Homo sapiens: one gene and its partner. The protein of the gene in region 2 purifies or fractionates together with the protein of the main gene of each other region. This does not show direct contact. Each region holds a gene or a part of one and is shown on either strand. Other genes may lie near its edges.

Region 1 (7,687 bases), on a different chromosome or scaffold from region 2:
CTGTTAGTCCTTTTGACCTTTTTCTCCAAAGAATCAATAAGGAAACTGACCAATTTCCACAGAAAAAAAGAAAACAGCAAAATTACCATCTGTGTGGGGATCAATTTACAAAATTACTCAGCAATATTGAACTACGTCATCATTAGAAAATGGAGAAAAATCAAATATCTCCTAAGCTCCTGGCCCATTTTTCCTACCACCCACTGAGTAACTCTGTCTAGCAGCATTTCAAACTAACACTTCAAGCCTGAACTCCACACCTCCCCGCCCCACCTCCCTGCCCCAGACCTACCCACCAATCACATCCATTAATCTATATCCCCTATCTTGGCTGAAGGCCTCTCCCACTCGTCTCCCAAGTTAGAAACCTAGGAGTTAACTCTTCATCTCTACATGCAGGCACCTCATTAAAGCATGTCAACCTTACTGACAAACATCACCCAGTCCTACCCCTGTACTGTTATTTGAATTCAGGCCATCACCACCTCTCCCCTGAAGTCGACAACCCACTAACATGTCTGGCAGTACCTTCATGGGAGAGTCACCTTTCCTCCTCTTCCATTCCCCACATCCTGAGCATATTACCTTTTCCTTGCTTCCTATCTCTACCATACCACACTGAATACTTCTATTCTAGCACTGAACATCCTATTTTTAGTCCTCTGTTAACTTGTCTGCCCACCTGTGAATTCTAAGCTCTTGAAGAAGGGACCACTTTTGGTTACTCCAGTATCCTCTGTGGCTGGTACAGGTACACAGAGACAACTTTGTAAATGTTCGTTTACTGAATATGTCAAAGTCCATTCTCCACACTGCTGCCACATTTCTTTTTCTTTTCCTTTTTATTTATTTATTTTTTTGATACAGAGTCTTGCTCTGTCTCCCAGGCTGGAATGCAGTGGCGCGATCTCCGCTCACTGCAACCTCCGCCTCTAGGGCTCAAGGGATTCTCCTGCCTCAGCCTCCTGAGCAATTGGGATTACAGGTGCGCGCCACCACAGCCGGCTAATTTTTGTATTTTTAGTAGAGACAGGGTTTCACCATGTTGGCCAGGCTGGTCTCGAACTCCTGACCTCAAGTGATCCACCCGCCTCAGCCTCCCAAAGTGCTGGGATTACAGGCATGAGCGACAGGGCCCAGCCTGCTGCCACATTTCTTTCACCAAAAGCAAATCTAACCGAGTCCACTGGTTGGATGCCTACAATAGCCATGTGAGAAGCTGTCCCTTCACAGTCTGGCCCCAACTCTTTTTCACTCCAGCTCGTCCCCTGGCACTGTGACTACACTACATTCACTGTTCCCAGAGCACATTTTCAGGCCCGCGTATAATACATACTACAGGTTGCGCACAGAATCTCTTTCACAAGATTTTCCCTCCGTCTAAAACATTCCGTATTTTTCAAGCTCTGCTCACAAATCATCTCCTCCTCAAATTTTCTCAGGCAGAATAAACTTCTCCCTCTGGGTTACCTATGCACAGTTAATACAGCTTTTTTGTGGTCCCTATTCCACACACTATTCTTATTACAAATTTTGCGTTTGCTCCCACTAGAAAGCAGAATGTTGTGGGAACCTCCTGCACCAGGAGAGCCCCAGCACCTTACACGCTGACTGCCTCGAGTCATGTGATAGAGCTTGAGTTTTTCCACTGTTTGAAAACTGGCTCTGCGATCTTTCACCTGTGCAGTTGGGGGCAAGTCGTTATGAGGCTTCCCTGAGTCTCATTTCCTCTTACGAAAAATTAGAATCTCTATTTGGAAAGTTATTGTGAAGATCTCAGCTTATGAAATTATGTATGTGAAGCACCCACCACAGAGCACAATGCTGACTTTTTCTTTTCTTTTTTTTTTTTTTTTTTGAGACGGAGTCTCGCTCTGTGGCCCAGGCTGGAGTGCAGTGGCGCGATCTCGGCTCACTGCAAGCTCTGCCTTCCGGGTTCAGGCCATTCTCCTGCCTCAGGCTCCCGAGTAGCTGGGACTACAGGCGCCCGCCACCACGCCCGGCTAATTTTTTGTATTTTTAGTAGAGACGGTTTTCACCGTGTTAGCCAGGATGGTCTGGATCTTCTGACCTTGTGATCCGCCCGCCTCGGCCTCCCAAAGTGCTGGGATTGCAGACGTGAGCCACCGCGCCCGGCCCACAATGCTGACTTTCTATTAACTGTAACTGCCAGATAAAAATGCACTGGAGTAATGAAACGGGGGGAAGAGGCTGCCAAAAGGATGAATTAAGGATTATCAGTTCAGTCCCACAAACATTTGCAGGGTGCCTACTACGTACTGTACCAGAGGTGGCAGGACATACACATCAAAGGACGAACGAAGCACAGTCCCTGCCCACAGGGACAGTAAAATGCCAGATGACAAAGGTTCACCGAGGAGTTTTTGGGGTAAACCTATGGTCCCCTCCACACAGGGGGCTCTTCTAGGGCGGTGGTTCTCAACAGAGCGATGTTGTTCCCCAGATGACATTTTGGGTTGCCACAAATGGGGAAGAGATGCGACCGGCACCCAGCAGGTAGAGGCCAAGGATGCTGCTAACGAGCCTCCGATGCACAGACAGCCCCCACCACAATCTTCAGGAGCAGAGCGCCCAAGTAGAGAAGCCCTCGCCCCGCAGCACTGCGCCGAGTCCCCGCCCACACCGGCTCTGGGGAGCGGACTTCCGGCGGGGTGGACCCACGGCGCTTCCCGAGGCGCCGCAGAGCTGACCCCGACCCCGGGAGTGTGACCCAGAGGACACCGAGCCCCGGCAGCCCTGCGGGCACCAGCGCGCCGAGGCCCCTCAGCCCTGAGCCCTCCCTCCCGCCCCCCCCGGGTGCTAAGGCCGCGCCAGTGAGAGACGGACCCGGCGTCTACACACAGGCCCCCGGAAGGTTCTCACTCACTATTTCTCTGCTTTGGCGAGGTGTTCCAGCCCCTCGTTTATCTTCTGAGCCGCCATCTCCACAGTCAGGTCTCTGACGTGGAGAGAGGGTGACCCTGCCTCTTCCTCCGGCGCCAAGAATCCGCCCAAATAGGCGTGGGAACGCCGAGGAGGAAGCTGGTGCAGCGCGACAGTCGAGCGGCTACGGAGGGCCGGAGGGCCCAAGCCGCTGCGACGAAGCGGGGCTGGGAGCCTGCCGGTGCGCCCCGCAAAGAGACATTGCGCAGGCGCAGCGCGTCAAGGCTGGCCCCACCTAGGGCATCTAGCGCAGGCGCGGTGAGATACTGATGGGGCGTATTCTTTCATTCAATATTTGCAAAGCACCTAATATGTGTCAGGCACTATTTTAGATGCGGGAAGATCAGCAGACAAAAACTCCCGCCCTCTTGAAGTCTTGCTTTTTCATTAATGTGAAACTGCTGTGGATCCTGTTTGTAGGGTTAATTGGCTTTATAATTTATTACATCTGAAGTTTCTCTGTATGACAGATAGAATAGTATTCTTCTATCCATTCTGCCTTTTGGGTATTAATTGTATGTCAGTCAAGAAACGAAACAGACTTGTAAACCCTGATTACTGTCAAATAATCCGCGCCCAACCCAAATAATCGCTCTAATATTTCAAGCCGTGATAAGTGCTCTAAATGGGAAGTTGAGGGATCTAAAGTCGCGTACAGTGGTCTGGTAAAAATAGTAACCAGTAATACAGTTGGCTTCATTCATAATTCATGGTGATTTCAATATCCACATGGATGATTCCTGCAATGACTATACAGCCTCTCAGCTTCCAACCTCCTGTGATCTTTCCCACACTAGCGCAGCCACACATTCCTGGGATCACACCCTTGACCTTACTCATAACTGTGTACCCTCCGTAGTGTCAGTTTCAAACAGCTCACTTTACTTCCCCTTTCCATTCCAGCTCATACCTCCTAGTGCTAGTAATTACTTAACCTTCACCAGATTCCTCACCTTTCCCTATCCCTCTGCTCTTACACGTCCTTCTTTTCCCAGCATAAATTCATGTCCCATCATTTTAGTGCGTATACTCTCAACGGCCTTGGCTCCCTCTCCCTCCTTTCTCCAAGCCAGGAAAAACCCCAGCTCTCCACCTACTCTGGAACTGCTCTTGAGCAAGTGAATTTGACTGGAAAAAAACAAACGAGGATGCTAACATTACTCATTTTAATGATCATAAACATTAAGCCGACCTTTGGTGCTGCTGAGCAACTCTCCTATGTTTCCATGGTCAAATCACTCACCCACTCACTTGGAGGGCTGTTCACACCTTCCTTCTCAAAACTCCTACACAATCTCTGCTTGCCTGCCAACTCTCACTTATTGTTGAATATGAAATAACTATTCGAAGAGTTCTTCCCTTTGGCCTCACCACACAATCGATCGATCTTCCTGCATCTATTTGCCAATCAATATTTTGCATTTTTTCTAGTGCCAACAGGTGAACTGGCCTTGGATTTTTTTCTCTATCCTCACTTTCTTATTTAGTACCCACACACAAGACCCCTCTTCATTTGGTTGTCTAGCCTGGGCTTCCTTTATAGGAAGGCAGCAGAATTTCAAGAGAGTGAAAGTGGAAACTTCAGGCTTCGTAAGGCCTGGACTCCCACTGCACATTACTTCTGCCACATTTTATTGATGAAAACATGTCATAAGGCAAGTTCAGATTCAAGAGGTAGGAAAATAGAGGAGTGTAAAATACTTTGGCCATGACTTCCAATTCACCACAACTCTGGGATGACTGATTAAATATAAAAGGACTGTTACCAGTGGAAAGCCTTATGTTTTCAAGTGAGTTTAGATTTATTAACCACCCAATACCATCACCCTCTAAAACCATTGAAAGTGCCCAGAAAGTTTTCTAAGCCTATAACCTCCTCCACATTCTCCCTTATTTATTCATTCATTATTGAATTATTGTTTACTGAATGCCCACTCTGCACAAGACATTAAGCCTACACACCTAGGACCCAATTGTTGAGCAAGAGATATAATGCCTGCCCTCATTGCATTCATGATCTATGAGAGGATACAATATTTAACTTAATTTTACTTTGGCATCAACAAAGAAAGAATGGGAAAAAAACCCCACGATAGTGATATAGCAGTTATTAAGAAATACTTTTTAGGCAGATAGTAAGGGTAAATGTTCTCAGTGGAAATTTTCCTGTTTTAAGAAACAACCCCTGAACCATCTCTTTTCTAACAGAAAAGGCAGCTTGAAGAGCCAGGCCCGCAAGCTTTGATATGCAAATGTCAGTCCTTAGAAACTGAGTTCACTCAACATGGTGATTCCGCCATCTCTTCCTTGTCATCAGGTGTACCAAGTGTCATGGCCACCTCCAGATAACACCATGTGTTCAGAACATCACGGTGACCTGTATTTGCATATTAAAGGGCTAAGGTGGGAGGGCCAGGTTTTTCGAGAGCTATGTAAATGACACACCTGGTCAAACCAATCCCCTGGGCCCTATGCAAACCAGACACCACCTCCTCCAGGATCCCAATATAAGCAACCACTTTTCCACTGCACACTGGGTTTTCTCTTTGTTCAAATCCTCCCTACCTCTGTCTCTGTATGGGGGAGGTGTTTTCTTCTTCCTTCCTTCTTTCTTGCCTATTAAACTTTTCACTCCTTAAAACCACTCCACGTGTCCGTGTTGTTAATCCTATCAGCACGAGACCAACAACCCTGGTGTTCCTCCATTCGTTGGAGCTATATCAATAGCCATGGGCATTCAAGGGTTCTATGTTTCAAAGGACCCTTGACCAGGGAAGCCGTGGTAAGTATGTGCTAACATGCATTCATAGTAAAGGGGAGAAGAAGAGAGAGAATGGGCACAGTAAAGGTGTAACACAAATGCCCCCACTTTCTTCCCCTCCCCTTCTCTTCCTGCAATAACATTGAGGTGGGAGTTGAGCAAGGGGAATTTAAACTGAGAAGTCAGCTTAGAAGAACTGAGAATGGAAAGCATGGACCAAATGATGATAGACTAAGACGTGTAGTTTCCCAAGCTAGAATCGATAGTGTGACCCCAGGCCTTGTTGACCCATAAACGTAATTCTTGTTATCACAGCAGCTACCACCAGAACCTCAGCAAAAGTTGTCTTTGTGACTTCAACTTACCTCTTGCCTCCTCTCCTAAGGCTCTTTAGACGCTCATGTCCTCCCTCACCTACCCCGTCAACATACAGACTTGCTGGCTGCTGGCCCAAGTGATTCCATCTGAGCCAATCCTCTCCTCTAGTTCTAGAAACTCTTTTTCTTTATCCTGCCTCAATAAAAATGTGCATTCCTGAGTGATCTACTTGTTTTGGATGTGACTAAAATGATTCACATCAAAGTGTGAATGAGGCTTAAAATAGAGCTTGCAAACCCCATTCCTTCTCTCATGGTGGGCTTAAGTCTCTGAGAGTTCTTTAAGCCTGCATCCCCAGGTTCCTTGTCTACACAAACCTGCTTCCTTCCCCTAGCCTAGTCTGCTGCCAGGAAGCAAAATCCTTGGACCTACCTCCCACAGCTGAATGTTCCAGTCAAATAAAAGGTCTTTGTCATTTCTTGGAGAGAGGGTTTGATGGGTCAAATGAGCTCTATTTCAAATCAGGAATCATAAATAAGGAAACATAAGAGCTCCTATATCGCTAAGTTTTCTTTGTTTGTTTAATTGCTAGTAGCCTGACTGTGTAATTTTACCCTTTTCCCCCACAAATATACTGTTATGTTATACAAGAGATACACTTCTGAGACCCAGCCCAAGAGGTTAGCCATGAATCATAAAATCATTTCTCTGGGAAAATATATTCTGAGTTATAAATAACGAATTTACAAAAAACCTTTGGAACAAATTCTGCTATCATTTGACAGTTCCTTTCATCAGAATAGGATTTTAGAAGATTGTTCTTGGCTTTTTTTCTGATAAAACTAATAGAAGCCATTATGATCTGTATTTTTTTTTCTGGTTAAGTGTTAATGAATACATTGACTTTTAAAAATCACCACTGAATCTCTATGAGATTAATATGGAGAATTCGTTCTCCAGATTCCTGTGTCCAATGCCTTCTTAGCAGCTCCACCTAGACATCTAAAATGTCATACATAATCTGTTCAAATCTGAGCTCCTGATGCTCCCATACCTGCTCTCCCTTCAGGCTCAGCCATGCTGGGTTCATGGCAGCTTCACCCTCTCCTTGCCCAAACACTTGGAGTCATGCTCCTCTGCTCTTTCTGTCGCACAACACATGCAATCTGTAGGAAATTCTGTCGACTTTGCCTCCAAAAAGTGCCCAGAGGCAACCACGTCTCCTCATCTCCCTGTCCACAGCCACCGCGTAGTCTGTTAGTTGCCATCGTCTGTGACTGCACTCACCATCTGTGTTCAGAACACAGTGCAGTGCGAATTCCAGAGCAGAACTCAGTCAATTTTGGCTGAAAGTCCTGTGTCATTACGGAAGAAGAGGAAGAAGCATTTGGACACTTGGAAGGTGTTTTCTCTCAAGTCTGGCCATGGCCCTTCTTCAAGGTAATTTCTTTTCTTTCTTTCTTTCTTTCTTTTTTAAATTATTCTTTCTTTTTTTTTAGAGACAGGGTCTTACTCTGTCACCCAGGTTGGAGTGCAGTGGCATAATCATGGCTCACTGCAGCCTCAAACTCCTAGCCTCAAGCAATCCTCCTGCCTCAACCTCCCAAGTAACTGGGACTGTGGGTATGTGCCACCACACCTGGCTATTTTTTATTATTATTTTTA
Region 2 (7,904 bases):
CAGCCTCCCGAGTAGCTGGGATTACAGGCCTGTGCCACCATGCCCAGCTAATTTTTGTATTTTTTGTAGAGACAGGGTTTCACCATGTTGTCCAGGGTAGTCTTGATCTCCTGAGCTCAAGTGATCCATCCTTTTGGCCTCCCAAAGTGCTGGGATTGCAGACATGAGCCACTGCACTTGGCCCTATTCTGACTTTTAATAACATAGATTTAATTTGGCCAGTTTTGAACTTAATAAAGATGAAATGATACAGATTGTACTCATTTTATGTCTAGCTTCCTCTTCTCCTTTTTTTTTTTTTTTTTTTTTTTTTTTTTAAGAGACAGGGTCTCGCTGTGTCGCCCAGGCTGGAGTGCAGTGGTGCAATCATAGCTCACTGCAGCCTTGACCTCCTGGCCTCAAGGATCCTCTCACCTTGATCTCTCAGGTAGCTAGGACTACAGGTGTGCACCACTGTGCCTAGCTAATTTGTGTCTGGCTTCTTTAGCTATGCATTGTTGGGAAGAGGTCACCTATGTTGTTCACACAGCAGTAGGCCATTTATTTTTGTGCTTTATAATATCTGTTTATACAAACCTCTGTTGATGGATATTCGAGTTGTTTACAGTTTGGAACTAGTAAAAATAAATACTGCTATGAACTTCATAATAACACCAAATTGGAAACAATGCAAACATCCATCAATAAGAGAATGGATAATCAAACTGTAAGTATATTTATATGAGGAAATACTAATGAGTAATAAAAAAAGACCAAACTACTGATATATGTGACATCATGGATAAATCTCAAAAACATTGTGTTAATTGAAAAAAGCCAAACACTAAAGAATATATAAAGTATGAAGTCCAAGAGCAGACAAAGCTAATCTGTAGTGACAAAAATCAGAAAGTAAAGTCCAGGTGCAGTGTGGCTCATGCCTGTAATCCCAGCACTTTGAGAGGCTGAGCCAGGCGGATCATTTGAGAGGCCGAGGCGGGTGGATCATTCGAGACCAGCCTGACTAACATGGTGAAACCCTGTCTCCACTAAAAATACAAAACAAATTAGCTGGACATGGTGGCGCATGCCCATATTCACAGCTACTTGGGAGGATGAGGCAGGAGAATTGCTTGAATCACGAGGTGGAGGTTGCAGTGAGCCAAGATCGTGCCACTGCACTCCAGCCTGGGCGACAGAGTGAGACTCCATCTCAAAAAAAAAAAAAAATCAGTAAGTAACTTCCAGTGATGAGGGAAATGGATTAAAAAGGAGCATAAGTCAAGGAAACTTTCTGGGGTGATGATAAAAATGTTTTATCTCTTGATTTGGGTGTGGCAGTTACATGGATGTGTACAAGTGTCAAAATCCATTGAGCTGAACACTTACTATCTGTGCATTCGATTGTATATCAATTATAACTCAATAAAAATTAAATGTAAGGGCTGGGTGTCATAGCTCACTCCTGTAATCCCAGCACTTTGGGAGGCCGAGGTGGGTGAATTGCTTGAGCCCAGGAGTTTGAGACCAGCCTGGGCAACATGGCAAGACCACATCTCAACAAAAAAATACAAAAATTAGCCAGGTGTGGTGGTGCGTGCCTGTAGTCCCAGCTACTTGGAGGCCTGAGGTAGGAAGATGGCTTGAGCCAGGGAGATTGAGGCTGCAGTGAGTCGAGATCACGCCACTGCACTCCAGCCTGTCTCCGAAAAAAAAAAACAAAAAGTAAATAAGTATAGAAAAATGCTGCTTGGTCCTAAAAATGCTCCTATGAACTATACCTGATTTTTGGAACACGCATAGTTGGGTATATAGTTAGGAGTAGAATTGCTGGGTCAGAAGGTGCATGGGAATCCTGGCTCTGTCACTTAACAGCTGTATGACATTAGGCAAGTACCCAGAATCTCTAGTTTCTTTATCCGTACCAAGGAGCTAATATCGCCTTGATGGGTGCAAACCCATGAAGACTACTTTCGTTAATTAACAAAAGTATGTAGAGCTGAGAGACATTTTCTCTAAAGCCATAGATTTTTAGAAAATTTGTTGCTCAAATTATCAGTAAGAATGGAATATATCACTCTTACCTGGAGGATCAGTTACTTTGATGCAGAAGAGCAGCCTCAATTTCTAACGCAGGTGCAGAGCTTCAGATAAGGGGTTTCCAGACACAACATTCCACATTTATCTTGGCATCATGGTTTCCAAGGAAACAGGATCTTGTTAGCTGGGGCCTGATGATAATCCCTTTACACATAGCCTGGTGTGTTTGGGGGCTATCAAAACACTGCTTCTTTAAAAATTTATCTACATTTCTTTCCCCCAAATCCTGGAATAACTCACTGTCTTCCTGTGTTTTGTGACATGCTCCATGATTCTTTTGGTGTGCAGTTTCCCTTGCAGCAGCAAGTTAATAAACTTAACTTTGTCTGACTACAGGTGGTCTTTATCAGATGGGCTTTATCTTGGAGATTACTGATAACGTACACAAAATGTGTTCATACTGCCTGGCACCTAACAGGCATTTAAGCAATGATAAAATTATTATTTTTATTATTCATGTGTTAATTCAATAAATGTTTGTTTGACATCCAGTATTTGCAAGGCACAGATTTACTGCTATGAGAGATGCTCACTGCAACCTCTGCCTCCCTGGCTTAAGCTACACTCCTGCCTCAGCCTCCCGAGTAGCTGGGACTACAGGCTCAGGCCACTATGCCCAGCTAATTTTTGTATTTTTGGTAGAGATAGGGTTTTGCCATTTTGCCCAGGCTGGTCTCGAACTCCTGAGCTCAAGCAATGATCAGCCTGCCTCAGCCTCCCAAAGTGCTGGAATTCCAGTTGTGAGCCACCGCGCCCAGCCTAAAAACCACTTTTATTTTACATGGAGAAAGAAAACAATATTTTTAATTCCTAAAAGAAAAATATCTTTACTGAACTTCACTTTAAATAGTGTCAAATGTAAATGAAAAAAATCATCAGTACTATTATATAGGTAAAAAAGTGCAATTTACATGACTTGCTTAAGATTTGACATAAAACTACAGATTCTAAGAAACGGTAAGGTTTTATAATAATAACCAAAACAGGCTGGGTGCGGTGGCTCACGCCTGTAATCCCAACACTTTGGGAAGCCGAGGCGGGTGGATCACCTGAGGTCAGGAGTTCGAGACCAGCCTGGCCAACATGGTCAAACCCCATCTCTACTAAAAATACAAAAAGTACCCGGGCGTGGTGGTACACGCCTGTAATCCCAGCTACTCGGGAGGCTGAGGCAGGAGAATCGCTTGAACCCAGGAGGCGGAGGTTGCATTGAGCCGAGATTGCGCCATTGCACTCCAGCCTGGGCAACAGAGCAAGATTCTGTCTCAAAAATAAAATAAAATAAAATAACCAAAATAAGAGTCCCCAAATGTCATCCGTCTCTTTCTAGAGACAGGGAAAAAAAATGCTCTCATAAATTCTCCAACGAAAAATAGAGATAGTCACCCTTAAAAAATCCTAAGGCTGGTGGGTGGATTGCTTGAGCCCAGGAGTTTGAGACCAGCCTGGACAACATGGCCAAACCCCAACACTACAAAAAATATAAAAATTAGCTGGGCGTGGTGGCGCACGCCTGTAATCCTAGCTACTCAGAGGTTAGGTGGTAGGACCTCCTGAGCCCAGGAGAAGGAGGATGCAGTGAGCAGAGATCGCGCCACTGCACTCCAACCTGCGTGACAGAGCGGGACCCTGTCTCAAAAAAAATAAAATAAAGAAAAAATCCTAAGGCCATATACAGGCTCATTCACTTTGGGTCTCCTTTCATCCAGGCAAGCAGCTTTCTGTCTTTGCATTTTCCAAAGACTACAAAGCAGGCTGGGGTGGGGTGGGGTGGGGTGTAGAACACAGGAAACGCAGCCAGTTCCCCTTCACTTCTCACTATCTTGATCTCCTCCCAAACCAAAATCCTATGTCTTTCCTTTTAACATAGGCTTACAAAAATGCAGTTTTCTGTGGGAACATTGAGGTCATGCATTCCAAATTACTTAAGGGAACGATTTTTAAATTTTAGGAATCTAGTTCTCCAAGATATCCCGGCTTGGGATATAGATGAACGAGCTATTTGGGAGAGATTTAGACGAGAATGAATTTTAGAGAAGTAGCGAGGTGAGGAGAGAGTCAGCTTAGCGTTTGGGTTTTGCAGTCAAATTTCAGCAAGGCGAACTAACCTCGCTGGTCTTAATTTTCTCATCGGTAAGAGGGAAAATAATAATGCTTACTTTGATGAATTACTTTACTTCAACATTTAAAAAACCGACTCTCCGTTATCTATTCTAATGATAAAAATATAGATAGAGCATCGTCCCCTGCTGTGAAAAATCTTATGAACAAGTGAATTGCGGTGAGGATTCACATAGTATGTGCTCAATAAACATTATTTTATTGTTTAGATTAGAAGAGGGGTGGAGGGAGAAATGAAAGTGGTTTGGAAACCCCAAACACTACCAAAGCCCTGGGGATGGAAGTAGAGAGGAATTTCGGGTTACGATTTGGTTCCGGGTCTGAGTTTCAACGTTGAATTCTCCCATATTTGGGCCTGAATTCTCAGAACAGAATAGGATGTAAGGGCTGAGATCATCTGGTACAGTTTTATGCAAATCGAAAATTCTTGCCTCTTGTCACTGTGCCCTGGCGAGAAACAACACCTCCACCCAAGCTCATCCAATCTCAGCCCCAACTAGGTGACGTCATCTCCCCGCCCTGCATCCCCAAGCCTCGGGGAGTCCTGTCTCTAAGCTACAGTCCCAGCTCCAGTCCCAGCTCCAGTCCCAGCGGCGCCTGCGCACTTTGGACCGGGGCGGGGAGGACGCGTGCGCGCCGCGTGAGGGCGGGGCTAGTGCGCACGCAGCCTTAGCTCCTTCCCCGCCCTTGCTCTTCCCAGTTTCTCCGTCAGCCTGCGGGTCCCGGCTGGCGGCTGCTTCCGGTAGGAGAGCGGTGTAGAGCGAGCAGGTCTCAGCTCCTCGTCATGTCATACGGTCCCTTAGACATGTACCGGAACCCGGGGCCCTCGGGGCCCCAGCTCCGGGACTTCAGCAGCATCATCCAGACGTGCAGCGGCAACATCCAGCGGATCAGCCAAGCCAGTGAGCCGGGGTACCGAGCTGGGGGGCGGGAGCTGTCCCGGGGACAGGCCTGGGTGAGGCTGCCGGGACGCAGGGCCCGGCTGGGGCTACGGCCGAGGCCACACCTGGGGCTGTCTCGGGCTGTCCACCCTGGGGGCGGTGGGCTGCCATCCCCCAATCTGTCAGGCCCGGGTTGCCCGAGGGTCCCCGGCCCCAGCTGAAGCTTGAGCTGCTTCTCTGGAGTTCTGCCCCCACGGTGCTGGGACCAAAACAGCCGACTTGACAGCCCGAGGGTGGGAAGGGGAGTGTGTGTCACCTCGAGAGCTGTGAGTGCGTTGACTTGGCGCAGTGGTCAGCCGAGTTTCTCCTGTCACCCACCTTCCTCCCCACCCACCTCGCTTTCCTCTTAGACCAGTTTGGATGGGGTTGTTTACTGATTTAGCCTTTAGGTTTACATTCTGCTCAGCCCCTGGCTCCTCGGAAATCAGCAACTTTCAATTAAGGGAAGTGGAGAGTGCATGTGTTTGGGTGACTTCATACACAGTTCTTCCTGTAATGAATTCGGAAATCAGACACAATGACTGGTATTTGAAAGGTGGGATGACTTCATTTTAATAAAGAGAATTCACCAACAGCATTTCAATTTACATTATTTTGTCTTTTGTAACAAATAATTGGGGTGTATTTTTGGATTTCAGGCAGATGAGGCTTTTGTTTTCCTTCCCTACTTAGCTGCTCTTGAACAAATCTGGTACACAGGGAAGCTAAGACACTTAGCCACAACCACATAGCAAGTAAGGCATGGTAGAGTTGTTGGTGGAATTCAGAATGCTATTGCTTGTCTTAAAACTCCCTCCTCCCCATTAGGGTCTGAGTGAAACTGTAGCTGAATGAGTCAAATACAGGGTGTTTCTTGTGCTTGAAAATCATCTTGGAGCCTTATAAACAGGAGATCAGCAGCAGCTTTACTTGGAAAGAATGGTGGTCATCATCCTTGTTGTTTATTATTGTTTTGTGAGCTTGGCGTACTCTGTTAATAGGTAGAACTAGTTAGTCCTGAATTACAATTATATTCTATATTTTAAAGAGTGTCACTTTGCTTTCGTTTTTAAACTTTTAAAAATTTTTCTTTTTTGTAGAGATGAAGTCTTGCTATGTTGGCCAGGCTGGTCTCAAACCCCTGGGCACAAGCACTTCTCCCACTTTAGCCTCCCAAAGTGCTGGGATTACAGGCGTGAGCCACTGTGCCTAGCCTAATTTTTTTGATTTAAAATATTTTTAATTTATTTTTTCGAGACAGAGTCTACTTCTGTCACCCAGGCAGAATGCAGTGATCTGAGTGAAGTGGTACAATCCTAGCTCACTATAACCTTGAATTCCTGATCAGCTTGCTGAGTAGCAAGGACTACAAGGATGCATCTACCGTGCCAGGCTAATTTTTAAATTTTTTGTAGGGATGGGGTCTCACTATGTTGCCCAGGCTCACTTTGCTTTTAAATCTAAATGTATATTGTAGAATTTGAGAAGTAGAAAGTTTCTGATCAAAAGGGATTGAGACTCTGGAAGTGAAAGGAAGAATATGTGGCCTGTTAAAATCCAGAAGTAAAAAAAATTAATATGACCACTGGTTAGAAAGTATAGTACTGTTTGTTCCAGTTTCCTTTTGTGAAGGAGCTGTAATACAGGTTAGATCAGAAAATTCTAGTTCAAGGCTGAAATTTTCTTGTTGAAGCTAAATCTAATTTTAATATCTATTTGCGAAATATTCATTCAACATGTATCCATCTATCCATCTTCGTGTGTATTTTATATATATATAAAACCAGAATACTCCCAAAGGTAGATCCGACATACAGTTTTAAATTTAAATTTAAATTTTTATTTTGAGACAGGGTCTCACTCTGTCACCCAGGCTGGTATGCAGTGGCATGATCTCAGCTCACTGCAGCCTCAACCTCCCTGGCTCAAGCAGTCCTCCTGCCTCAGCCCTACAAGTAGCTGGGACTACAGGTGTGCACCACCACGCCCGGCTAATTTTTATATTTTTTGTAGAGATGGAGTTTCACCATGTTGTCCAGTCTGGTCTTGAACTCCTGTGCTCAAGTGATCCACCCACCTTGGCCTCCGAATAGGCCAGGATTACAGGCATGAATCATCATGCCTGGCCTTCAACATATATTTATTTGAGTATGTAGTAAGTATAAGAACTGGCATGGATCTTTCAACAGGGAACCTGCAGAGTTCATAACCAAAATATAAAGTTGAAAGGGATTGGTGCTATAGAAGACATATAAATAACATGCAGGTATTCTGGGAAGAGAGAGATTGTTTTTAATTGAGAAGGCATTATGGCATTTGAGTTATGTCTGGAAAGAGGATGGAAAGATTTGGACCTTCGAAGGTAAAGAGGAGAAGAGCATTCCAGGAGGGAATAAAATGAACAGGCATCATAGTGGGGAAGCATAGAGTATATCTAGAAGAGTAATTTAATTTGGCTAGAGTGGTGGATTCCAGAAAGTAGTGGGAAAAAAGGATTGAAAGGTAAATTGTGGCCCAAACATGAAGGATGTTAAATGCTAAGCTAAGGGGCTTGGATTTAGTTATTTAGGAAAGTGCGAATTGAATTCAAAGGGAGAGACTGGAATCAGAGATACCAGTTAGGGCTGTGAAAATGAAAAGAAAGGAAAGGATAGGAGAGGTTTCCTTGGTGATAGAATTGGTAAGATTTAGCTATTGATTGGGCATTGGGCCTCAGGGGATCATTTAAGTCAACTGTTAGTAATATTAATAGCTAACATTTGAGTACATACTGTGTTCCAGGCA

The links. Proteins that work in one complex are often made in the same cells at the same time.
Region 1: the proteins of STX12 (region 2) and NAPG purify together in Homo sapiens (affinity purification with mass spectrometry; 5 studies listed by BioGRID and IntAct, with this or other methods). This does not show direct contact.

The regions. Positions count from the first base shown.
Region 1 is NC_000018.10:10,521,359-10,529,045, reverse strand, and holds the start of NAPG (gamma-soluble NSF attachment protein), read right to left. Parts: upstream 3,020-7,687; 5' UTR 2,944-3,019; coding exon 2,888-2,943; intron 2,600-2,887; exon of another isoform or gene 2,472-2,599; coding exon of another isoform or gene 2,281-2,471; intron 46-2,280; coding exon of another isoform or gene 1-45. UniProt on the Homo sapiens protein: Required for vesicular transport between the endoplasmic reticulum and the Golgi apparatus.
Region 2 is NC_000001.11:27,768,324-27,776,227, forward strand, and holds the start of STX12 (syntaxin-12), read left to right. Parts: upstream 1-4,895; 5' UTR 4,896-4,984; coding exon 4,985-5,102; intron 5,103-7,904. UniProt on the Homo sapiens protein: SNARE promoting fusion of transport vesicles with target membranes. Together with SNARE STX6, promotes movement of vesicles from endosomes to the cell membrane, and may therefore function in the endocytic recycling pathway.